Linked DNA regions of Homo sapiens: all the other regions are linked to region 1. The links come from fine-mapping of genetic effects on gene expression. A gene starts in region 1. Each other region holds a variant in brackets. All regions are shown on one strand. Distances are between the middles of the regions.

Evidence for each region. PIP is the estimated chance that this variant, and not a neighbour inherited with it, causes the effect.
Region 2: its variant is fine-mapped to the expression of CD2BP2 in whole blood (TOPMed, PIP 0.98).
Region 3: its variant is fine-mapped to the expression of CD2BP2 in whole blood (INTERVAL, PIP 0.99).

Annotation. Positions count from the first base shown.
Region 1 is chr16:30,351,429-30,359,333 of GRCh38, forward strand. It overlaps CD2BP2 (CD2 cytoplasmic tail binding protein 2), which reads right to left and starts at 3,880. Exons shown (of 7, transcript NM_006110.3): 1 at 3,784-3,880; 2 at 3,176-3,279; 3 at 2,756-2,894; 4 at 2,473-2,630; 5 at 1,940-2,372; 6 at 1,753-1,859; 7 at 1-1,667. The coding sequence starts at 3,253. The coding sequence ends at 1,557. TBC1D10B (TBC1 domain family member 10B) reads right to left here. Exons shown (of 9, transcript NM_015527.4): 7 at 7,744-7,905; 8 at 7,235-7,389; 9 at 5,674-7,145. The coding sequence ends at 6,516. It overlaps CD2BP2-DT (CD2BP2 divergent transcript), which reads left to right and starts at 4,006. Exons shown (of 2, transcript NR_184233.1): 1 at 4,006-4,192; 2 at 4,865-7,905. RefSeq lists enhancers at 2,894-3,845, 2,930-4,129, 3,820-4,114, 3,846-4,797, 3,852-3,911 and 1 more.
Region 2 is chr16:30,399,832-30,407,736 of GRCh38, forward strand. It overlaps ZNF48 (zinc finger protein 48), which reads left to right. Exons shown (of 3, transcript NM_001214909.2): 3 at 1-277. It overlaps ZNF771 (zinc finger protein 771), which reads left to right and starts at 7,775. Exons shown (of 3, transcript NM_001142305.2): 1 at 7,775-7,833. RefSeq lists silencers at 7,499-7,678, 7,701-7,905. The variant C/T (reference allele first, on the strand shown) is at 4,447.
Region 3 is chr16:30,408,525-30,416,429 of GRCh38, forward strand. All of the region lies in intron 2 of ZNF771 (zinc finger protein 771), which reads left to right. Among named protein-coding and RNA genes, the nearest start is that of ZNF771, 4.9 kb to the left of the region's middle. RefSeq lists a silencer at 1,052-1,141. The variant C/T (reference allele first, on the strand shown) is at 4,033.

The DNA.
Region 1 (7,905 bases):
AGATCAATGGCATCTTACTGTGTCACCGGCAGGCCTCTTCTTTCTTAGTGACGTTTAAAGGAAGGTATCTTACCCCTGATGGCTTCTTGGAGTGAATGAAATTCCGGTGTGAGCAGGCACTAGAAGGGGCCTCACAAGAGTGTCAGGTGACCCCACTCCGCCCTGGCCCCCAAGTCTTTCCTAGTTGCTCATCTGGCCCTTTCTGACCTGGGATCCCAAGTGTCCTGCAGCTCCAGTGCCCAGACCCCCATAACTAACAGACCCCACTAAAGCCACACACATGCTCAGCTCTCCAACCACGGTGGGGTCCAGGAGCCACCCCTCCCGCTAGGTGTGCCTAAACCATGGGGATCTGACTCAGGGGCTCTCTCTCGGCCTGGCTGCAAGCTGAAAACACCTGGGGGCTTCCAAAATGCCCAATGCCTGGGCCACAACCTAGACCAGCTCAATCTGAATCTCCAAAGAGATATTACAGCTCCCCAGGAGACTCCAAGGGGCAGCCAGAGTGCAAAACCGGAAGAAACCATCTAACGTGGGGCAAGGGAGGCGTAAGGCAATGCTGGTGGGGCGTGGAGGTGGAGGGTGCCAGGCCCAGGCTATAGAATTACATCTGTCTATTTCCCATGCCCCTGCCACCAGACTCTGAATTCCTGGAAGGGGACCAACCCAGCTACCTCAGTTTCCTCAAGGCACTAGCCCTGTGCCAGGCACATAGTGGGGTCCAGAGAATGTAGGCCGCAGGGCCTCCAAGGCCAGGCAGCAAAGGCTTTGTGCCAAGAAAGGTCTGGGAAAGGAGCCCACTGGGTCTGGGCCAGCCCTTTGATTCCTGTGATCTCCAGTGAGTCACTGCCCCTCTCTGTGCCAGTACAATGCACACTTGGCCCACACTTGGCCACTGAGTTTGCACTTCACTGAAGGGCTGTGGGAACGACGGCAAGGATAGAGGAAAGCCAGATTAGGGAAGACACTGGCTCTCAGAACCTTAGGGATCTCGGTCTTGGGCCACTCATCCCACTTCTGCCCAGCATCTAAGGAGCTTGAGAGGGTGAAGCGAGAGTAAGAGGGTTCCATGCTCACCCCCAACAGGGTCCCAATGTCTTCTCGATGCCCTGGTCCTTCTGGGCCTAAAACATCCACTTCTGGGGCTCTGTCCTCTGGTGGCTACAAGGATAAAGAATCTGAGGTCCTGAAAGCCAAAGACCTAAGAGGAATCGAACAAGAAACCTGGGAGAGGAGCACAGAGCAGCGCAGTTGGGGGTGTTTACACGGCAAGCAGAGTCCAGGCAGGGAGGCCACAGGATACCTGACAGGCACCTCCAAGAAGGATCTTCATGGGAGTACTCAGGGACCAAGACAAGTCCAAAGGGACTGTGGAGAAGGCCCCTGGCTTCTGGCCATCAGCACAGCCAAGGCCCCAGTACACAACTAAAGGCTTTTATTGGGAAAGGGAAATTGACTGAAAAATGGCCTCCAATTTCCTCGCTGCCTGAGACACTTGGTGCCTCCTCCACAAAGTCCAGGAAAGAAGGGCCCACCAAACTGGGCCCCCAGCAGGCTCAGGTGTAGAGGTCAAAGTCAATGCGTTTGGAGTTGTAGAACTGACCACCAGGGGGGTCCAGCTTCCGGCAATAAACACCGTCCGGGAAGTAGCCTTCACTCACCCAGGTCTGCAAGGAGAGGGCAGAGCTGGGGAACAACTGACAGGAGTGGGGGAAGCAGGGACAAGGCAGGAGGAGGGAGAAAGCAGCTCACCTGCATCTGGGCGCTGGTGAAGGGCCCATACAGCTCGGCATCCCCCGTGTTCTCCCACTTATATTCCCACATCACATCCACCAGACCATCTCCCCGCGACTCTGCTTCTAAAATAACAGGCAAAGCCATTTGGCCTCCAGTGTCTCACTTCCTACCCACTGCCCCCTCCTCTGTCCTCCAAGCTCACCTCCTCTCTGGGTAGGGGTTGGGGTCTCCAGTTCCTCCTCCGCCAACTCCTCAGCGAACATGTCCAGGGAGGGTGGGGGTGTGGGATTGTGGGGTCCTAGGGTCTGACACCCCAAACCCTTCAGACGCATAGCCAACCGTTCCCTTGTTTCCTGGTACACACCAAGGTTGCCCCGGGCCACCATCTGGTCGGCCAACCCGGAGAGCCGGTCCAGGCGCTGAGGGGAACTGGGTTGCCCAGGCCCCTTTCTCCCTTTGCCTCCTCCTCGGGCCCCCAGACGCCTCAGTGCCCCAGCCACTGTCTCTCTAGGCAATAGGAGCTCCAAAAGTCCCTCCAAGAGGGCTTGGGCACTCATTGAGGTCTGGCCCAAGCTGTCCTCCTCCTCCGAGTCTGAGGCCTGGCGCTGGCCAGGTGGCCGCTCCCGGATCTTCACCTGTAATGGGAAGATGGAGTGATTTCCCACCAACTGCCACGGGAGCAGGCCCAGCATCTGCCACTCCCAGGCCCCAGCCACGCCAGCCCCTGGGCCGCACCCAGTCAATGTTGTCCAGCCAGCTGTCTCGGATCTGAGCATCCCGGTTCAGGAAGTAGTTGCCATCGGCATCAAAGTGGCCTTCCTCCATCTCCTCCTGCAGGTTAAAGGGTGTGATCCGAACACCCCCCTCGCTGGGGAGTGTGGCTGCCTCCTGACCTGCACCAAAGACACAGGTGCCCTTTTCCAGGCATGGAAAAAAGAGACCGGAGCCTCCCTCGCTCCACACCACCAGAGGCCCCTACTTGTTTTTCCAGCAGAGTGTATTCTTGGGTACAGCTTACCTTCTACATCCTCTGAGGCCAAGATGTCATATTTGCTGGACCCCCCATCATCATCATCCTCCTCCTCATCGCTATCCAAAGAGTGTTTGCCTTTAAAGCGGCTCCCAGGACCCCCTGACCCAGCCACAGGGTCCACCAGCTGTGAGCAGGAGCCAGAAAGTTGAGAAATGCAGGTTACTGGCTACCTCCCCAAATACTTCCGGATCTGGACCCAAATATTCCCCAAATATTTCAGGATCTCGACTACTTCCCCAAATATTTCAGGAGCCACACTAAAGACGCTCCCAACCCATTCCTCAGAGAACCTGAAAAAACTAGGCTTTTCTCTGCCTGCCCGCCCCGCCCCTCTCCCGCCAGCTTTCTTCCTCTTCAGGCTTCTAGCTCCTCTTTCCCCCACACAAAGCAGTCTGGCCCCCTCACCTTCTTCTTGGGGACAATGATTTCATCCTCATCCTCCTCATCTCCCACGCCTTGGAAGGTCACTTTCCTCTTTGGCATGACGGGGCAAAGAGGTGTTTCTCAAGCTGAGGAAAGGATGCAGAGGAAGGGAACCGGGTGAGGAGGGGACTCGCCAACAGACGCAGCACAGCAAACATTTTTCCTGGTCTGTGACAGGTACAGTTTGGGAGCGGAGGGAGCACAAAAGCAGGGGCCGAAAGGAAGCTGGCAGCCAGGAGGCCTCCAGGACTTGGGTCTAGCATCCGCGAGTTAAACGGGGCGGGGACGGAGGAGCGGACCCTCTGGATCCCCCGACCCTGGCTGAAAGGAGACAGGCTTCACCACGTGACCGCCCCCAACTCCAGCCCCCGCAGTCTGCGCGCCACCGGCTCCACGGGCTGACCCCCGCTCTCTACCCTGGCTCTCTCGGAGCTCGCCGGGCCCCGGCAGACCCAGGACCTGGCGCTCTCGCCACCCCGTTCCTCCCTGCTCCGAACTCCCAATTCCGTGTGGTGAGCCCCAACTGTCCCGGGCTGTGTACAACTTAGAGGGCCACGGGGATTCGGGCGGTCCCACCCTCGCGCACTCACCTGGGAATCCGCGGAAGGCGAGGTGGAAAAAAGAAGAGATGCTTGCGCCAGGGCTACATCCGGGGCACCCGGCCGCCATCACCCGGAAGAGGACTGCGGAAGGCGCCCGGGAAGCCCGGAAGTGGCTTCACTCGGGTTAGGGAACTAACTGGAAGAGCGGGCGGAAGTATGCGATAAGCGAGCGAAGACGCCTCCACCCTCTCTCCCGCCAGAAGTGACGTCAGTCACGTGGGAGGACAATGGTGAGAAGAGGGAACCTAAGAATTCCTGGACTCTGACTGGGCGTGAGAAATGGCCGGAAGTAGCTTCGAGTCCGTCATTCAAGCAGTAGAGGCTCTGGAGAAAAACTGGAGCGCATCTGCTTAAAGGGCCGCCCAGGGTCAGGATGGAGGGGCAAAGTCCGAGCAGGGTCAGTGGGTTGCTGCTCCGTTTTCCTGTCCTGGGTTCAAGTCACCCTTCCCCCAGGGCTAAGGGCTCAGCGCCCCTACCGTCTCGTTAGAAATCCTGCCTTCCCATTCCTATGGTCCAGTGGTCAGCCCTCCTAGCCTGAGAGGTGCAGCCTTGCCTCTCCGAGGGGAAGCCTGACTCTCCCGATGGCCAGCCTGGGGCCCCTGGACGGCTCTCCGGGCACTTTCTGAACACACCTCCCTTTAGGACCCAGGGGAAATAATTTGTCCCACGCCCATACCCTGGGCGAGTTCCTGGTTTCTGAGGTGGGAGAGCCATCACTGGAGAGGTGGCATTGGCGCCAGTACTCAGGCCAGAAGCCCCTTGTGCCCTGCTCTCAGGTAGGCCTGGAAAAGGGCAACAGTGCCTCTCTGCAGCATGAAGCCCCCCTGAGCAAACAGGGCCTAGCAACTCCTGCCCAGGTAGCGGAATGTGGCCCAAGCAGAAGGGGGAATTGGGGAGGTAGCGGGGATCAGCCCCTGTGCTGGGACCCCTAGCTCTTGACACTCGGAGCCTGCATCCCCCTAAGCCAAGACTGTGCGCAGGCAGCACGTGCTGAAGCCAGACGAGGACAGCATGAGAGTTCCCCTACTCTTCCCCCAGGCAACTAGATGGGCCACTTCTCTCTCCCTAGGGGTTTCCTCCCATATTGGATCACGATGAAAACTGCACAGAAAGTCCGTGCTCAGTTTCTTCCATGGTTACAGAACACAGGCCCCAGACCAGGAAGGCATTCTGCTAAAGAAGGGGACCCGAAACCTCAGCTACCAGCGCCGATGGTTCATCCTCCGAGGAAACCTCCTCTTCTACCTAGAACACTAGACCGACCATGCACCCCTGAGCCTCATCCTGTTAGAGAACTGCCAGGTGGAACCACACCTTAAGGCTGCAGAACCCTATGCCTTTACCATCCTGACCCCTGGGGTGGAGGGCACAGGTGGGCGGGCCTACAAGCTGGCTGCAGAAACCCAGGAAGAGCTGGAGACTTGGCTGTGGGCACTGGCTGGCGCGAGCTGGAGGCGGCTGGCTGGGCTGCTGTCCCCCCTCCCCCCCCACCAAAACCCAATACTGGGAGCTGTGCCAGGCAACTGGCCAAGAACCCATCTCATCCCCAGAGGACAGTGGCTTTCTAGCCACTGTGAGTACCCCCTCCAGCTTCCAGGAGTTGCATGAGCACTTTGGGAAGGAGATCCGGGTGCTGCACGTGGTACATAGAGAGCTCCAGGCAGCCAGTGACAATGGAGACAGCAGATCCCAGGCAAAGATGGAGCAGGAGCTCAACCAGTGTCTGATGAGTGACTGAGAGATGGACCCAAAGCTAAGAGGTACCTACTTGCCAAGACAGCAGACTGCTTCAACAGAGACCCAGGTCCTGGCTCTGTCCCTCCCTCCCTCGTCCTTACCCCATCCCCCCCTCATCAAATAACAAGGCAGAAAACAGGCCCAGGTACAACAGCAGGTTCTTTTCCAATTCCTCAAAGCGCTGCATGGGGTGGGGGCAGAGACAGAAGAGAATGTAAACATTGGGTTCCACCCCCTGGAGCTCAAGGGAAGACCCTTACCCAGATAGGGACTAACTGGAGGGGTGGAAGGGAACAAGGTGAAAGGTATGGGTCCTGGTGAGACAAAAGCAGGGGGGCCTGAGAACACAGAGCAAGGTGGGTTTGGAGGGAGCACAGCAGGGTGCAGGAAGGGAGATGGGGGACATTTCCTATTCCAGTGCATGTCCCCTTAAATAAACTGGGTACAGGAGCATTATGGAAGGAGAACCAAAGGACAGAAGACAAAGCGAGCACCCCCACCCCAGGCCAACGCCATCCTCTGTACACAATTACAACACAGGTCCAGAATGAGAGCCCTGGCCAGGAAGTGGGGGAGACAGGGAGGGCTGAAGACAGGGAAAAGGAAGCCAGCTCCACCTCATGGTAAGGGGAGCTATGGAGTGTAAGAATCTGAAACTGCTGACTCCCATCACCAGGAGTCACCCCTGGGATGACAACGGGCCATTCAGGACAGCACCTAGGAGGGGACCCAGAGGGAACTGGGGCAGGAGCGACAGAGACCCCAGCTGAGCCTCATGGGAGATGAGAGGCTCCAGACTCATTTGCAGCTGCCCATCTGTCCTGCCCGTGTAGGGATCAGCAGCTGGCGAGGAGATGGGGAACCAAGCCACTTTCCCCAGCAAGGGACAGCCTGACAAGGTGCTAGGGGGTGGCACCTTGGGCCAGGCCTGTTCTTGGCTGAGGGAAAGAGGGGGGCCATGCAGTCCAGCCCCAGGGCAGAGGTCAGAAGTAAGCGTCCTGCCGGGCCTCGGCTGAGGGCCTGTCCCCACCATCATGGGGGCCTGGGGGCCCATCTGCCTTTCGACGCAGCGAAAGCTTCCGGCCTTGAGCCTTCTTCTCCTGCTTCTGCCGCTCCTTCTCCTGCTTCTCTCGCTCCTTTTCCTGCTTCTCTCGCTCTTTCTCCTGCTTCTGCCGCTCCTTCTCCCGCTCCTTCTCCTGTTTCTGCCGCTCCTTCTCCTGTTTCTGCCGCTCCTTCTCCTGCTTCCGGGTCTCCTTGCTGGAACCCAAGGGGGTGCTATTGCCAGTGGGTGAGGGAAGGGATGGATGCAGTCCCTCAGCAGTGACCACAGGCCCTGGGGCAGGCCCAGCACTGGCTCTGCGGACGGGGGGCGGCGGGGACGGGGCCCCTCCAGCTGCCCGGGAGCCTCGGCTCTTGAGGCCAGGGAGGCTGAGGAGGCTGGAGGAGGGGCCCAGGGGTGGCTGTTGCCGCCGGCGCTCCTCGTGGATGGCCCGGGACCCATGCAGTCGCCGTGAGGGCCGATACTGCAGCTCCCCCCGCGTTTCCCGCCACTTCTTGAGCTGGGCTGCATTCTCCCGCTCAATCAGTGCTTCTGTCACCGGCAGATTGGTCACCTGCACAGAGAGGAAATGCGTACCAGAATGGAGCTGAGGGTGGGAGCGGGCTGAGGCAGGCAGGGGCTGCGTTGAGGGCACAGGCCTACCTCATGCACCAGGAAGTCTTCCTGCATGCACTGCTGGGGCAGGTTACGCAGCTGCTCCATGGTCTCATACATGCCTTGGCAGGAGCGCAGCTTCTCCACTGAGCCCAGCGTGTGGCGCAGCAGGACCAGGGCCACCCGGAAGATGATCTTAACGCCTGCAGGGGTGGAGAGTAGAGAGCATGGGGTGGTCAGACCCAAGATCTCAGCCTGTCCTGATCAGGATAGACTCACAGCCCCCATCCCCATCTACTGCCAATCTCAGATGAGGAAACTGAGGCCCTGTGAAAGTACATGAGCTGCTATCAGTCTCAGGATCTTGGCAGGGAGAGCAGGCTCTGGGTTGGTGGCAGAACTAAAATCAGGCCTGTTTCTCCAGCCCCCAGCTGCTTATGGTGAAACCTCCACCCAACAAGTACCTTTTGTCCATGGACCACCAGAAATATGACAGAACCCCTGGTAGCCACCACAGAAACCCCAGCCCCTCATGGCCTGGAGGGCCACAGAAGTACCTTCACAGAAAAACATGTCCCAGACACGCAGCACCGACGCCCAGGGCAGGGTGCGGGCGAAGATGCACATGAACCACTCCGTCATGTAGAGCACAGGGTCAATGCGCTGCCGCCGCAGGTGGCGATGCGCCAGCGGGGAGGCCCGGCGCAGGAGTGCAAAAA
Region 2 (7,905 bases), 48 kb after region 1:
TCTCATGGTATCCAGCCTGGATGCCAAGCCCAAGTCCTGGTGGATAGCAGAGGCCAGCTGTTTGGGAAAAGGGCAGGATGCTCTGAGGCCTGGCAGCCACATTTCCATGTGTCTTTTTACCAATAAACGGCTTCTCTTCTGAGGCTTGGACAGTGTGTGTGTACACACAGGCATGAAAAAGGTGGAGAGGGGTCTCTGCGCGCAAAACTCAGACTGTAAATTTTGTGTGCTTCCCTTGCTCTCTGAGCCCATTAAATAAAGAGGTTGTCTTGGCGTAGTCAGCGGCTTTCTAGCTCCGACGTCTGGTTCAAAAACGGCCGCCAGCTCCATCAGCCGATGCCCCAGGCCTGAGGTCTGGCTGCCCGCAGGCACCACCTACGCCACAGCATCCAGCGCGACCCTTAAAAGGAAAACCGCGCGGCGCTGCAGAGACAAGGCAGCAAGGAGGAGGAAGAGGGGGCGTGTGGGGGGCGTTGTTGCTATGGCGACGGCTGTCGGCGGGAGGCAGCCCACAGGTCTGGAACCGGCGTGGAAAGCCCGGACGCCGGCGCGCCGCCCACCGGGACCTGGGAAACCCGACACCCGAGACCCTTTTTATGCGTCGGGAAATGAGTCATTCGGCTGCACAGCCCAAAGGGAGGGCAAACGGTGCTCCTTCACCCCCAGAAAAGCCCGCCGGATTTCCCGGCGCCCCGCGGGGCCTGGGAAGCAGGTCTGCAATCCCTAGCGTTTTCACAACCACTGGCCTGATCGGCCAGGGATTAAAGAAAAAAGAAGTCCAGGGCGGTTCTCCCCGCTAAACAATGAAGGCAACGAAGTACAGGGTCGCAAGTTCCCGCCCCCGGCTCTCCCCGATCTCCGTGCGGAAAGAATCCCTGGACGGGTTCTCGCGAGATCGTAAGCACTGGCCTGGCTTCCCTAGAAACCGACCAGGGCTGGCTGCAGTGCGGCTCCTCCCGCTCCGCCCGCCCTTTCCAAATTGATGCGCTCTCAAAACCCTAGAACCCTGCGTTCAGGGCTGGGGCTCTTGATGGCCTGAGCGGAGCCCTTTGGGGCTTCTGGAAGTTCCTTCTTGCTGGTTTTCCTAGCTCCCTTCCCTACCAGTGTGCCCTCCAAGACGACCTGCAGTGAACTTTCTTTTCTTTTTTTTTGAGACGGAGTCTCGCTCTGTCGCCCAGGCTGGAGTGCAGTGGCGCGATCTTGGCTCACTGCAACCTCCGCCTCCCGGGTTCAAGCGATTCTCCTGCCTCAGCCTCCTGAGTAGCTGGGATTACAGGCGCGCTACCAAGCCCGGCTAATTTTTGTATTTTTAGTAGAGACGGAGTTTCACCATGTTTGTCAGGCTGGTCTCGAACTCCGGACTTCGTGATCCGCCCGCCTCAGCCTTCCAAAGTGCTGGGATTACAGGCGTGAGCCACCGCGCCTGGCCACTTTCTTTTCTTGATTTCTTTCTTTTTCTTTTTTCTTTTTTTCTCAAGACAGGGTCTCACTCACTCTGTCGCCCAGGCTGGAGTGCAGTGGCAGGATCTTCGGCTCACTGCAGCCTCCGCTCGGGTTCAAGCGATTCTCCTGCCTCAGCCTCCCTAGTAGCTGGGATTACAGGCGTCCGCCACCGCGCCTGGCTAATTTTTTTATTTTTAGTAGAGACGGGGTTTCACCATGTTGGCCAGGCTGGTCTCAAACTCCTGACCTTAGGTGATCTGCCCGCCTCGGCCTCCCAAAGTGCTAGGATTTATAGGCATGAGCCACCGTGCCTGGCCTGCTTTCTAAAATTACATCTGGCCATGTCACTCCCCCATTGAAACCCCAGTGGATCTCCACATGCTGTCCCCAAAGCCTAACTTTCATTGGCACTCAAGCCCTTCCATTTGTGTAGTTTCAGCCCTGGGCTCCTTAAATGTCGTTTCTTTTACTTGGAATGCTCCTCCACCACTACCCACCCCTTGTTAATCTCCTCTGTCAAAACACCTCAAGCACTACTTCCTCCAAGAAGCCTACTCTGACCCTCGTCTGGGTTAGTTACAATCCCCTTCTCTGAGCAACCCGTCTCTGAGCACCTAACACATGAAGAGCTTCTTGAGGATAGTTACTCACTCAACAGCTGCACCTATTGTGTGCTGCATACTGGGATAGAAAGATAAACAAGACAAAGTCCCTGACCTGTTTTTATGCGGGAGATAGACATTGAACAAATAATTACAAGTGAGGTGAGAAATGTCCAGCAAACCTATGAGCTGGAAAGAATCCTCTGTGATCCAAAGGCCTTTCCAGGCCAGGTGTGGCTCAGGCCTGTCATCCCAGCATTTTGAGAGGTTGAGGCAGGAGGCCAGGAGGCCAGGAGTTCGAGACCAGCCTGGGCAACATAGTGAGACCTCTCTACAAAAAATACAAAAATTAGGTGGAATGCACCTGTAGTCCCAGCAACTCAGGAGGCTGAGGTGGGAGGATCGCTTGGCCCCAGGAAGTTGAGGCTGCAGTGAGCCATGATCATGCCACTGCACTCCATCCTGGGCAAAAGAGCAAGATCTTGTCTCCAAAAAACAAAAACGACCCCCGCCACCACCAGAAAATACTGTAATCCCAGCTACTCGGGAGGCTTGAGGCAGGAGGATCGCTTGTGCCTGGGAAGTCAAGGTTGCGGTGAGCTGTGACTGCACACTGCACTCCAGCCTGGGGGACGGAGTGAGACCCTGTCTCAAAATATATATATATATTTCCACAAACTACTGCCTCCTTGCCAATCTGGCAAAGTCCCACTCATCTTTAGTTTTTGTTTGCTTGTTTTTTTTACAGATGAGCTCTCACTATATTGCCCAGGCTGGAATACAGTAGCTATTCACAGGCACATAGTGCACTATAGCCTTGAACCCCTGGGCTCCAGCAGTCCTCCTGCCTCAGCCTCCTAAGTAGCTGGGACCATAGGTGTGCGTCACCACACCTGACACCCACTCATCTTTCAAGGTCCTTCACAGTTACCTTCTCAGTGAGACCAGCACGAAATACCTAATACCCCCGAAAGAGTGGTTCACTTACCCCACTCTTCTCCTGCTAGAACACCCTGTTATCCTTTTCTTATATCACTCATACTGTATATTTAGAGATCTATTTTAAATCAGAAGCTTCTTTTTTTTTTTTTTTTGAGACAGAGTCTCACTTTGTCACCCAGGCTGGAGTGCAGCATGCAATATCGGCTCACTGCAGCCTCAACCTCCCAGGTTCAAGTGCTCCTCCTGCCTCAGCCGCACAAGTATCTGGGACTACAGGCACGTGCACTATTATGCTCAGCTAATTTTCTTTTTTTTGGTGATTTTTGTACAGACGGGGTTTCACCACGTTTCCCAGGCTTGTCTCCAACTCCTGAGCTCAAGCAATCCACCTGCCTCAACCTCCCAAGGTGCTAGGATTACAGGTGAGAGCCACCACGCCCAGCCCACAAGCTGCTGCTGCTGCTGCTTCTTCTTCTTCTTCTTCTTCTTCTTCTTCTTCTTCTTCTTCTTCTTCTCCTTTTCTTCTTCTTCCTCTTCCTATTCCTCTTCTTCTTCTTCTTCCTCCTTCTCCGTCTTCTTTTTTTTTTAAGACAGGGTCTTGCTCTGTTGCCCAGGCTGGAGTGCAGTGGCACGATCTCAGCTTACTGCAACCTCCACCTCCTGGGTTCAAGCGATTCTCATGCTTTAGCCTCCCAAATAGCTGGGATTACAGGCGTGTGCCACCATGCCCAGCTAATTTTTGTATTTTTAGTAAAGACAGGGTTTCGCCATGTTGGCCAGACTGGTCTTGAACTCCTGACCTCAAGCGACTACCCACTTTGGACTCCCAAAGTGTTGGTATTACAGGTATGGGCCATTGCTCCTGGCCCCAAAAACTTATTTTTTTTTTTTTTTGAGACAGAGTTTAAGCAATTCTCCTGCCTCAGCCTCCCAAGTAGCTGGGACTATAGACATGCGCTACCACACTAGGCTAATTTTTGTATTTTTAGTAGAGATGGGGTGTTGGCCAGGCTGGTCTCGAACTCCTGACCTCAGGTGATCCACCTGCCTCAGCCTCCCAAAGTGCTGCGATTATAGGTGTGACCACCGCGCATGGCCCAAAAACTTCTTTACTAGACTATGAGATCCTCAAGAACATGAACTAGATCGTATTGCAAGTAGATACCTGTACATGGTTGCAGGGCAAATCGATGGAGCCCTTTACCTTCTTTTTCCAAGTTCCTATTTAAAACAGCAGGAGGCTCCTTCCAGTAGGGACTTTCACTGCCAGAGACAGGCTCCTGGCTGAGTCTCCTCACTGATTCTCTCTTAATCAGAGCGAGATGCTTTGCTTTCGCTAGAGGTTGGGTTCTGGCCAAGTTTACCCTCTGCCTACCTCTCCTCCATCTCCCTTGCTACATTTCCCCTTGTTCACTCCCTTGGATGCTCAGATCCAGCAACACAAGTCTTCTTCCTATTC[C/T]TCAAACACACAAGCTTCTGCCTCAAGGCCTCTGCAGTTCAGTCTCAAACACTCTTCTTCCAGATTTTCAAATGGCTAACCCTTTCTCATCATTCAAGGTTCATCTCAAATATTGTATCCAGGCCGGGCGCGGTGGCTCACGCCTATAATCTCAGCAGTTTGGGAGGCCGAAGCAGGTGGATCACTTGAGGTCAGGAGTTCGAGACCAGCCTGGCTCACATAGTGAAACCCCCTTCTCTACTGAAAATACAAAAAATTAGCCAGGCATGGTGGCAGGCACCTGTAATCATAGCTACTCGGGAGGCTGAGGCAGGAGAATTGAACCCGGGAGGCAGAGGTTGCAGTGAGCCAAGATTGCGCCACTGTCCACCAGCCAGGGCGACAGCTGGAGACTCTGTCTCAAACAAACAAACAAAATATTGTATCCAGGCTGGGCATGGTGGCTCATTCCTGTAATCCCAGCACTTTGGGAGGCCAAGGCAGGCAGATCACTTGAGGTCAGGAGTTCAAGACCAGCCTGGCTAACACGGTGAAACCCTGTCTCTACTAAAAATACAAAAAAAATTAGCTGGGCGTGGTGGTGGGCGCCTATAGTCCCAGCTACTTGGGAGGCTGAGGCAGGAGAATGGTGTGAACCTGGGAGGCAGAGCTTGCGGTGAGCCGAGATCGCACCACTGCACTCCAGCCTGGGAGACGGAGCAAGACTCCGCCTCAAAAAAAAAAAAAAATTAGCTGAGTGTATGGCGCGCACCTGTAATCTCAGCTACTCGGGAGGCTGAGGCAGGAGAATCCCTTGAACCCGGGAGGTGGAGGTTGCAGTGAGCTGAGATCATGCCACTGCACTCCAGCCTGGGTGATAGAATGAGACTCCATCTCAAAAAAAAAAAAAAAATTGTATCCTGAGACACCTTCCCTGCCTGCATTAAAGAAGCCCCTGTTACCATAGCTGCTCCCTGTTGGATCATCTTGTCAGATTTGCCCCGTTGCACCTATCATTATCTGATATTATCTTCCTCTTTACATGTGTACATTTGTTTGCACCCTTAGTAGTGTCACAAGAGCCACTATTTTTATCTGTTTTGTTCACTACTACATCCCCCATACCTAGAAGGGTGACGGGTATATAGGACTCAATAAATACCCAGAGAGGCCAGGCGTGGTGGCTCAAGCCTGTAATTCCAGCACTTTGGGAGGCCAAGGTGGGTGGATCACGAGGTCAGGGGTTTGAGACCAGCCTGGCCAAGATGGTGAAACCCCGTCTCTACAAAAAATACAAAAATAGCCCGGTGTGGTGGTGTGTGCCTGTAATCCTAGCTACTTGGGAGGCTGAGGCAGGAGAATCACTTGAACCTGGGAAGCGGAGGTTGCAGTGAGCCTAGACTGTGCTATTGCACTCCAACCTGGGCGACAGAGCAAGACTCCATCTCAAAAAAAAAAAAAAAAAAAAAAAAAAACTCAGAGAATGAATGCAAAGTGGCTTTTGGGGATCCTGTGTGTGAGTATCCAGGCATTTGACCCCTTCTCCCAGCTCTGGGAAAGAGCCAGTTTTATAACTTCATTCCTGAGAGGTAATTTGGTGCAATAGAAGAGCACAAGCTTTGAATCTGCTGCTTGCCAGCTGTGTGACTTTGAGCAAATTACTTAACTTGTCTAAGCTTCCGTTTCTTCTTTTGTCCAATGGAGATATTATTGATCCCAACAGGGCTGTTGTAAAGAGACAACATAGAACTTGTAAGCACTTACTGAATGTTATTTCTGTTTTCCTTCATGATTTCTGAATCTTAGTTGCCCCATTCATAAAATGGGAAAATTAGATATCTGCTTTTTCAAGGGAAGTGGCTGTTTTTCAAAGGAAGTGGCATTTGTTTATTCCACTAAAAAAAAATCTATTTTTATATGAAATATCCCAATTTAATTTTTTTTTTCTTGAGACGGAGTTTCGCTCTTGTTGCCTAGGCTGGAGACCAATGGCATGATCTCGGCTCACTGCAACCACTGCCTCCCCAGTTCAAGCAATTCTCGTGCCTCAGCCTCTCGAGTAGCTGGGATTACAGGCATGCACCACCAAGCTTGGCTAATTTTTGTATTTTTAGTAGAGACGGGGTTTCACCATGTTGGTTAGGCTGGTCTCGAAATCCTGACCTCAAGTGATCCACCGGCCTCCGCCTCCCAAAGTGCTGGGATTACAGGCATGAGCCACCGCGCCCGGCTTTGAAACGATTTTTTTTTTTTTTTTTTTTTTTTTTTTTTGAGACGGAGTCTCGCTCTGTCGCCCAGGCTGGAGCGCAGTGGCGCGATCTCGGCTAACTGCAAGCTCGCCTCCCGGGTTCACGCCATTCTCCTGTCTCAGCCTCCCGAGTAGCTGGCACTACAGGTGCCCGCCACCACGCCCAGCTAATTTTTTGTATTTTGTTTAGTAGAGTCGGGGTTTCACCGTGTTAGCCAGGATGGTCTCTATCTCCTGACCTCGTGATCCGCCCGCCTCGGCCTCCTAAAGTGCTGGGATTACAGGCGTGAGCCGCCGTGCCCGTCCGAAAAGATTTTTTAAAAGTAAAAATACCCTAAGGGCCAAACAAGGTACCCCTGTGGACTGGATTTAGCTTTGGGCTGTTGTTCACCTAGGCTACTGATTGTCAGGGATGCTATGACATCCTTATCGTGTAACTTAGGCAAATCAGTTTACCTCCCTGAACTTCAGTGAGCTCATCTGTAAAATGGATCAGGACCCATCGTTATGCGGATCAAATGAGACCAGGTATGTAAGACGCTGAACAGCGCTGGCGCATGGTAAGCACCCCACGCATGACGCGACAGCGGTAGCTTGGGTGGATGTTGAATTGGTTAGGATGTATTCAAGGATATCCCAGAGGCCAGCGGAATAGGCGAAGCCGAGAAAGATGGAGAAAAGACGGCAGAGGAGATAAAGAGGGAATGGAAGAAGTGAGGAGGCAACAGGGTCCGCCCTCCAGGCGGGGCGCCAGGGAGAGGCCCAGGCCGGGGCGGGAGCGCACGTGGCCTATTTCGGGCGGAGCAGAGGCACTGGGCGCAGCGGAGACCTCCAAGCCGGCCCCAGGAGACGGGCCGCGAGGTTAGGTTGGAACTCGGCGGCAAGGACCTTGAACGCCGGGCTGGGGCGGCTCCAGGTGCTTGGGAGTCGGGGGACTGCGGAGGACGCCAAGTCTGAGCTCGCCGCCCTCTCCGAGCCGTTTGGGCCGGACGCCTGGGTCCTTCGGGCTCCGCCCCAGGGGGTGGGGCTATATGTTCGGACCAATGACCGGCCGTCCCTGCGGTCCCGCCCCCTCCCCGCCCCCGGAGCCGCGGCCTCGCTGAGTGCCCAGCCGCCCGGCGCCCAGGCCTGGGGCACCGCGAGTGCCGAACCTTCGGCTGGTGAGTGCGCACCCCCTCCCCGGGGTTTCCGCCCCGATCCCGCCTCCAGCCCGTGCCCCAGAGCTCCAGGTC
Region 3 (7,905 bases), 57 kb after region 1:
CTTAACTCAGATTTAGAGGTTGGGGAAAGGTCAGGTTAGTTCAACAGCAACAGTAACAATAGCTAACCCTTGCCTAGCATTTTCTATGTGCCAGGCACTGTTCTAAGCACCTCGATTCTATGATGTCGGTAGCATTTATTCCATTTTACAGATGAGGAGACTGAGGCCCAGGGCAGTTTGGTAACTGGCCACAGGTCTCAAAGTAAAAGGATGGCTTATGTGAGACTAGTAGGAGTCTGGGGTCAGAAGTGGGGTGATGGACCCAGTCAGAGGAAATGGCTCTTTTATTATTACTGTTGTTATTGTTTGAGACAGGGTCTCATTCAGTCACCCAAGCTGTAGTGCAGTACAGCTCACTGCAGCCTTGACTTCCCTGGGCTCAGGTGATCCTCCCACCTCAGCCTCCCAAGTAGCTGGGACTACAGGCATGCACCACTACACCTGGCTAATTTTTTTTTGTTTTGTTTTGAGACAGAGTTTCGCTCTGTTGCCCAGGCTGGAGTGCAGTGGCGTGATCTCGGCTCACTGCAGCCTCCACCTCCCGGGTTCAAGTGGTTCTCCTACCTCAGCCTCCCAAGAAGCTGGGATTACAGGCATGCACCACCACGCCCGGCTAATTTTTTGTATTTTCAGTAGAGTTGGGGTTTTGCCATGTTGGCCAGACTGGTCTCAAACTCCTGAGTTCAGGTGATCCTCCCACCTCAGCCTCCCAAAGTGCTGGGATTATAGGTGTGAGCCACCGTATCCAGCCAGAAATGGCCCTTATAGAGGCTCAGACGAGTGAGTAGTGCACTGCAGCAGTGAGGGTGGGTGGTTCGGTCATGCTGTAGTGTGGATGAGTGGGGGTGGTTGGCAGGCCACACAGGGAGTCTGGCTTTTATTCTGAGGGTATTTGAAGGTTTTGAGATCAGAATATGAGTTAAATTTCACCCCCTGGAGACCCTAACTGCCACCAGATACGTTTCCGCTTCTCAGAACCCCAGAGGATTCTGTCTGCCCCCAGCCTGAGCAGCCCTGAGTACCAGCAGAGGGCTTTGGCCCCAGGGACCCAGCTTGCAGGGGCCGGGACTCTGATTCTTCCTGCCCAGGAGCCAGTTCCCAGGGAAAGAATGCTCTGCTGCCCCCTAGTGGGCCTGCTGGGTGCTGGGGGAGGGGACTAGCTCCTTAGGCCTCTGGATAGTCTAATAACTATCTGGTTGTGTTTGTTGCGGGCCCCCTTCGCCCATTATCCAGCTCTGCCTGCCTCTTCTGGCCCTGCGATTGCCTGATCTCCACCTTTGGCCTCTAAGTTACAAACACAGGCTCCAGAGCTTAGGGTGGACTTCCAGCTCCATCATTTACCCGCTGTGTGACCTTGGCCAAGTTTCCTAACCGCTCCACGCCTCAGTTTCCTCATTTGTAAAAGGGAAATTATAACAGCACCTACATCTTGGAGTTGTGAGGAATGAATGAGTCAACACATGCACAGAGTTAGAACTGTGTCTGGCACAAAATAAACACGGAAATAGTTGCTGTTACATTTATTCTTCTCCCCAAAGCTCAGGACCTTGGGCAAGGTCATCCTTCTTGAGATTTTTCAACTTTTTTTTTTTTTTTTGAGACGGAGTCTCACTATGTCGCCCAGGCTGGAGTGCAGTGGCGCAATCTTGGTTCACCGCACCTCCACCTACCGGGTTCATGCCATTCTCCTGCCTCAGTCTCCTGAGTAGCTGGGATTATAGGTGCGCACTACCATGCCCAGCTAATTTTTGTATTTTTAGTAGAGGTGGGGTTTCACCATATTGGTCAGGCTGGTCTCGAACTCCTGACCTCATGATCCGCCCGCCTCGGCCTCCCAAAGTGTTGGGATTACAGGCGTGAGCCACCACGCCTGGCTCAACTCATTTTTATCAAAGGCCTGGGCTGAACCATGAGAACTGGGGTTGATCAGGGAAGTGAATGTGGGGGCACAGAGGATTGAAGACAAACGACTCAAGGCAGTGGGGAAGGCTTCCCAGAGGAGATGATTTTTGACTTGGGCCTTGAAGGCTTTGCAGGGGTTTGGCACATGGAGGAGGAGGAAGGGCATTCCAGGAGGAGGAAACAGCAAAAACAAAGACTCAGAGGAAATGAGACTGGAAAGGCAGTTGGGGGACAGAGGGGCCTTGCAAGCTAGGGCAGGACGTACTGTGTTAGGTTCTGTGGCACCATAAGAAGCCTTAAATCATGGGAAGAGCCAGGCGTGGTGGCTCACACCTGTAATCCTAGCACTTTGGAAAGCCAAGGTGGGAGGATCACTTGAGCCCAGGAGTTCGATTCCTCCCTGGGCAACATAGGGAGACCTCATCTCTACAAAAAAAAAAAAAAAAAAAAAAAAAAAGTTTAATTAGCTGGGCATGGTGGCATGCCTGTAGTCCTAGCTACTCTGGAGGCTGAATGATCCCAGGAGTTCAAGGCTGCAGTGAGCCATGACTGCACCACTGTACTCCAGCCTGGGCAACAGAGAGAGACCCTGTCTCAAAAAACAAAAACAGGCCAGGCGTGGTGGCTCATGCCTGTAATCCCAGCACTTTGGGAGGCTGAGGCGGGCGGATCACTTGAGGTCAGGAGTTCGAGACCAGCCTTGCCAACATGGTGAAACCCCATCTCTACTAAAAATACAAAAATTAGCCGGGTGTGGTGGCACCTGCTTGCAATCCCAGCTACTTGGGAGGCTGAGGCAGGAGAATCGCTTGAATCTGGGAGGCGGAGGTTGCAGTGAGCTGAGATTGCACCGCTGCACTCCAGCCTGGGCAACAGAGCAAGATTCCATCTCAAAAAAAAAAAAAAATCAGAGGAGGGACATGATTGGATTTTCTGTTTAGAAGAATTATTGGCTGCTACAGGGAGCCCAGGCCAGGTAGGGCCTGCTCTAAGGTAGTAACAGCAATGATGAGGAAAAGGGGCCATTTAGGAACCTGGCTAGAGCCAAGGGGTATGTGCGGTGAAGGTCTGACATGGCTAGTCATGAAAGGCACACAGGGCCAGATTGTGAATGGTATCATGTAGCGGTCGTAACTCCACCGTTTACCAGCTTTTCTTTGGCTTTCTCATCTGTAAAATGGGGTAATAGAGTAAGACCCCTGAATGCCAGTCTGAGAAGTGTCATCAAGGTGACTAGATTTGGAGGAGATGGGTGGAATTGAGGATTATGCACACATATCCCATGAACTGTTAGCATCGTGCCCAGAAGGGTGCTCGATCGTTAGCTTGCTGTGGGCCTTCCTGAGCCTCATTTCTCCATCTATGAAATGGTGACCTCGAAAACACCTTCCAGTGGTGACATTCAGTGAGTCCTAGCTATTGCCAGTCCTGTGGCCAGTCACTGTCCAGAAGGGCCTTAATTACGCTGCATGCAGGGGCTGGAGTATTCTCCCTCTGCCATCAAAACCCAATCTATCTTTTAGAAAGATTTTCTGAGGGCTCCATGCACATCCAAACCTATCTTTCCCTGGCTTGAACCCTTGAGTGGTTTTCTGTTTCCCTCAGGGTGAGGTCTCAGCTCCTAAACTTGGCATTCAAAGCTCTTTACCATCTGACCTCATGCCATTCTGGCTTCATCCCCTCGACACCTATCCCATCCCCCCTTGTGGTCTCAGCCCGCAAAGCCCTCTTCACCTTTGCTCCCTGCTTTCTCCAGGAGTAGCTCTTTTCTCATCTAGATCAGTTTCTTAATTTTTAACATGCATACAGATCACCCAGGGGTCTTGTTAAAATGAGGATTTTAATTCAGTAAAATCTGGAGTGGGATTTGAGATTCTGCATTTGTAAAAAGTTCCCAGTGATGTTGATGTTGCTGGTCTGTGGACCACACATCCTCCAGCAAGGAACTAGAAGACAGTGGTTGTGTTTAATAGTTTGTGCCAAAATGAAGGAAGACTGTGACCGCAAAAAGGGGCCAGGGGAGGGAGACAAGCTGTGTAAGTGGCCTCAAACTCTAGTCAGTGAGATTAGAATTGCATCATGGAGGCTGGGCGTGATGGCTCTTGCCTGTAATCCCAGCACTTTTGGAGG[C/T]TGAGGCAGGAGGATTGATTGAGCTCAGGAGTTCGAGACCAGCCTGGGCAACATGGCAAAACCCCATCTCTACTGAAATACAAAAATTAGCCGGGTGTGGTGGCACACCCCTGTAGCGCCAGCTATTTGGGGGGTTGAGTCAGGAGGATTGCTTTAGCCCGGGAAGTCAAGGCTGCAGTGAGCCGTGATCATGCCACTGCATCCAGCCTGGGTGACACAGTGAGACCTTTTCTCAAAAAAAAAAAAGAGAATAAAAAAAGAATTGCATCATGGTTAAGAGAATAGGTGTTCTGGAAAATGAGTAAATTCAGTTCAAACCCTGGCTCTGCCATTTATTAGCTGAATAGCCTTGCCTTGTGTAGTCACTTAACTTCTGAGTCTTATTTCCTTATATATAAAACAGGGCTAAGGTACCTAACGAAAGCCATGGCGAGAATTTAGAAAGACAGTACTGGTAAAAAGCACTTAGCACAGTTCCTGGCACATGGTGAGTGCCCAACAAGTGGGAGTTATTTTATTAATTAGAGAAGTAATGGCTAAGGAAGAAACTGGGATGTTTGCTCTGGTTAAAAAACATTTAAGCAGGAAAACAAAAATCACTAACTTCTAATACCTGGATTATTATATTATTACACTACATTGTATGTTCACAGTAGCCTCCTGTTATAGTGCAAATACCATTTATTCTAATTTTTAAATCTAATAGTTGTAGAATTTAAGACATGCTTGGGCCATTAATGATCACCTAGTCTGGTATTTGCCAAGTTTCAGTCACATGTGTATTGCTCATATGTTGTACTCACATTATTTATTAATGTTTTTCTTCAAATAGATTCACATTGTTTTGTTAAATAAATGTACCTTCATCTAAACAATAGTACTGATGAAATTGTGGGTTTCATGTGATATCTTGTTTTTTAAATATTCGTGAAAATAAATGTGTAACAATTATGAGACTTTTTTAAAGTTTGCCCACATACCACCTTATACCTCATGCTGGGAAATTTTGGGTTTTTTTTTCTTTTTTTAGAGACACGATCTCGCTTTGTCACCCAGGCTGGAGTGCAGTGGCACGTGATTGTAGCTCACTGCAGCCTTGAACTCTTGGGCTCAAGTGATCCTCCTTCCTCGGCCTACCAAGTTGTTGGGACTACAAGTGCACCCCACCACACCTGGCTAATTTTTCACTTTTTGTAGAGACGAGGTCTAACTGTGTTGCCCAGGCTGGTGTCCAACTCCTGGCCTCAAGTAATCCTCCTTCCTTGGCCTCCCGAAGTGCTAAGATTACAGGTGTGAGTCACTGCACCTGGCCTCATACTGGGAATTTGATCTCACTTAGCCTACCTGGCCTTTCTCGGGACACTGGGGCAGAGGAGGATCTTAATGAGCTGGATTCAGCTCCTCTTACCAAGATTTTTCCTCGGGCATCCAAGGCCCCTTCTCCTGGGCTGGAGACATCAACAGTGCTTGTATGGAGAATTTCTTTTTCAGAAGTCAGTGAACTCAGCATGAGGAAGCCCTCAGGCTGTCCAAAGTCACCTGAAAGAGGGTGCCAAGGAAAAACGGGCCAGAAAAATGTAGATCTGATGAGACAAGTTCTCTCCACAGTGGCTGATGTATTGAAATAAACCAATAGATTTCAAAACCAGGGCAAGACTGGAAAATGTGACCTTGAATTCAGATGGTACCAAACATACTGTGGGGAGTTTCTCCATTTAAAGTATCAAGTTGTATTTTAACCTTGAATCCCTCTTGGAGTGTGCCAGGGACGTGGAATCCAGCCTCTGTCACATCTTGGTCACGTGAGTTCAGAACAGTGTAGCCTGAATGACGGCATGGTCTCATGGGCACCCTGAGTCCATCCTGGCTCCCACTGGCCATGTGAATTTCATCGCCCTCAGCCTCAGCTTTCTCAGCTATCAAAAGAGAGAACACCCAGCTCAAGGCGGGTGACAGGAGGATTTAATACAATAACATACATAGTGTTGTCAAAGCTTAATACTTTGTTATTGATTGTTGCTATTGTTATCAGTATAGATACTATTTAAACCAGATTTCTCTTGGTCACTAATTTTCTAAATTGCCCTGTTTTCTAATTTTTTTTTTTCAACGGAGTCTCGCTCTGTTGCCCAGGCTGGAGTGCAGTGGCGCATCTCCGCTCACTGCAAGCTCCGCCTCCCGGGTTCATGTCATTCTCCTGCCTCAGCCTCCCGCGTAGCTGGGACTACAGGCACCTGCCACCACGCCTGGCTAATTTTTTGTATTTTTTTAGTAGAGATGGGGTTTCACCATGTTAGCCAGGATGGTCTCGATCTCCTGACCTTGTGATCTGCCCACCTCAGCCTCCCAAAGTGCTGGGATTACAGGCGTGAGCCACCGCGCCCGGCCTCTTTTTTTTTTTTTTTTTTTTTTTTTTTTTGAGATGGAATCTCACTCTGTTCCCCAGGCTGGAGTGCAGTGGCATGATCTCAGCTCACTGCAACCTCTGCCTCCCGGGTTCAAGTGATTCTCCTGCCTCAGCCTCCTGAGTAGGTGGGATTACAGGCATGAGCCACCACATCCAGCTGATTTTTGTATTTTTAGTAGAGACAGGGTTTCACCATGTTGGCCAGGCTGGTCTTGAACTCCTGACCTCAAGTGATCCGCCCACCTCGATCTCCCAAAGTACTGGGATTACAGGTGTGAACCACCACGCCTGGCTTATTTTCTAATTTCTGAGTTGGTTACCACAAAGCCACTACCTTTTGACAAACTATCTTGAAGGCCTTGAAGTTGCCCTCCTGCAGCTTCAGAAACAGAAGGCCCTACTATTTTCTGCTGTCACCCTTTTTTTTTTTTTTTTTTTTTTGAGACGGAGTCTTGCCGTCACCTAGGCTGGAGGCAGTGGTGCAATCTTGGCTCACTGCAACCTCCACCTCCCGGGTTCAAGCAGTTCCCTGCCTCAGCCTCCCGAGTAGCTGGGATTACAGGCGTCCGCCACCACGCCCAGCTAATTTTTGTATTTGTAGTAGAGACGGGGTTTCAACATCTTGGCTAGGCTGGGCTTGAACTCCTGACCTCGTGATCCACCTGCCTCGGCCTCCCAAAGTGCTGGTATTACAGGCGTGAGCCACTGCACCTGGCCTTGCTGTCCCTCTCTCTTCACCTGTCTCCCCATCTGTAAAATAGGGATGATGATAATTACCTCGTGGAGATCGAATATGGGAGAAGCTGACACTGTCTTGTCCTTAATATGCCCCAGGCACTTCATTTGGTCATGAATTAATTGCTTGGCCACAGTAGATACGCGACATCAGTTTTGCTGGGGTTTTGAGCGTTCTCTTTTCTAGGAAGGGAGCAATATGCCCTCAATACTCTTCACTGTTAGTCCAGAATGTTTTCCCTTCATGTGCCTCTTAGAAGGCATTTCTTTCCTTTTTCTGATTTTTATCTCTAAAAGGCCAGAGCTTGTGAAACTGGCTCATTTTCAGATTGTTTCATTTCAGACCTCAGAATAACATTTGGCTTTTACCCTTGCCTTTTTCTTCACTGCTTAAAAAATGATAGGTGTTTGCTATTCAAAGCTGATTAAGAGCCTGGACTTGGTCCTGGCCTGGCTTCCAGGATGCCCCTCTCCTGCTCTCCTCCCTCCCTGGCTTCTCCCCATCTTGCTGCCCTAGGTTCTGTCTGCCCATCCCCTGGATGATCTCATCCACTCATTCTCAAGGCTTTATAAACCATCTATAGGTTGACAGCTTCTCAATTAACATCTCCAGTCTAGGCCTCGCTTCTGAGCTCCAGATATGTCAAGAAGCCGTGACACCATCCAAAACAGATCTCCCCTCTCAACTTGCTCCTCCCACCGTCCTCATCTCTGTAAATGGCAACTCCACC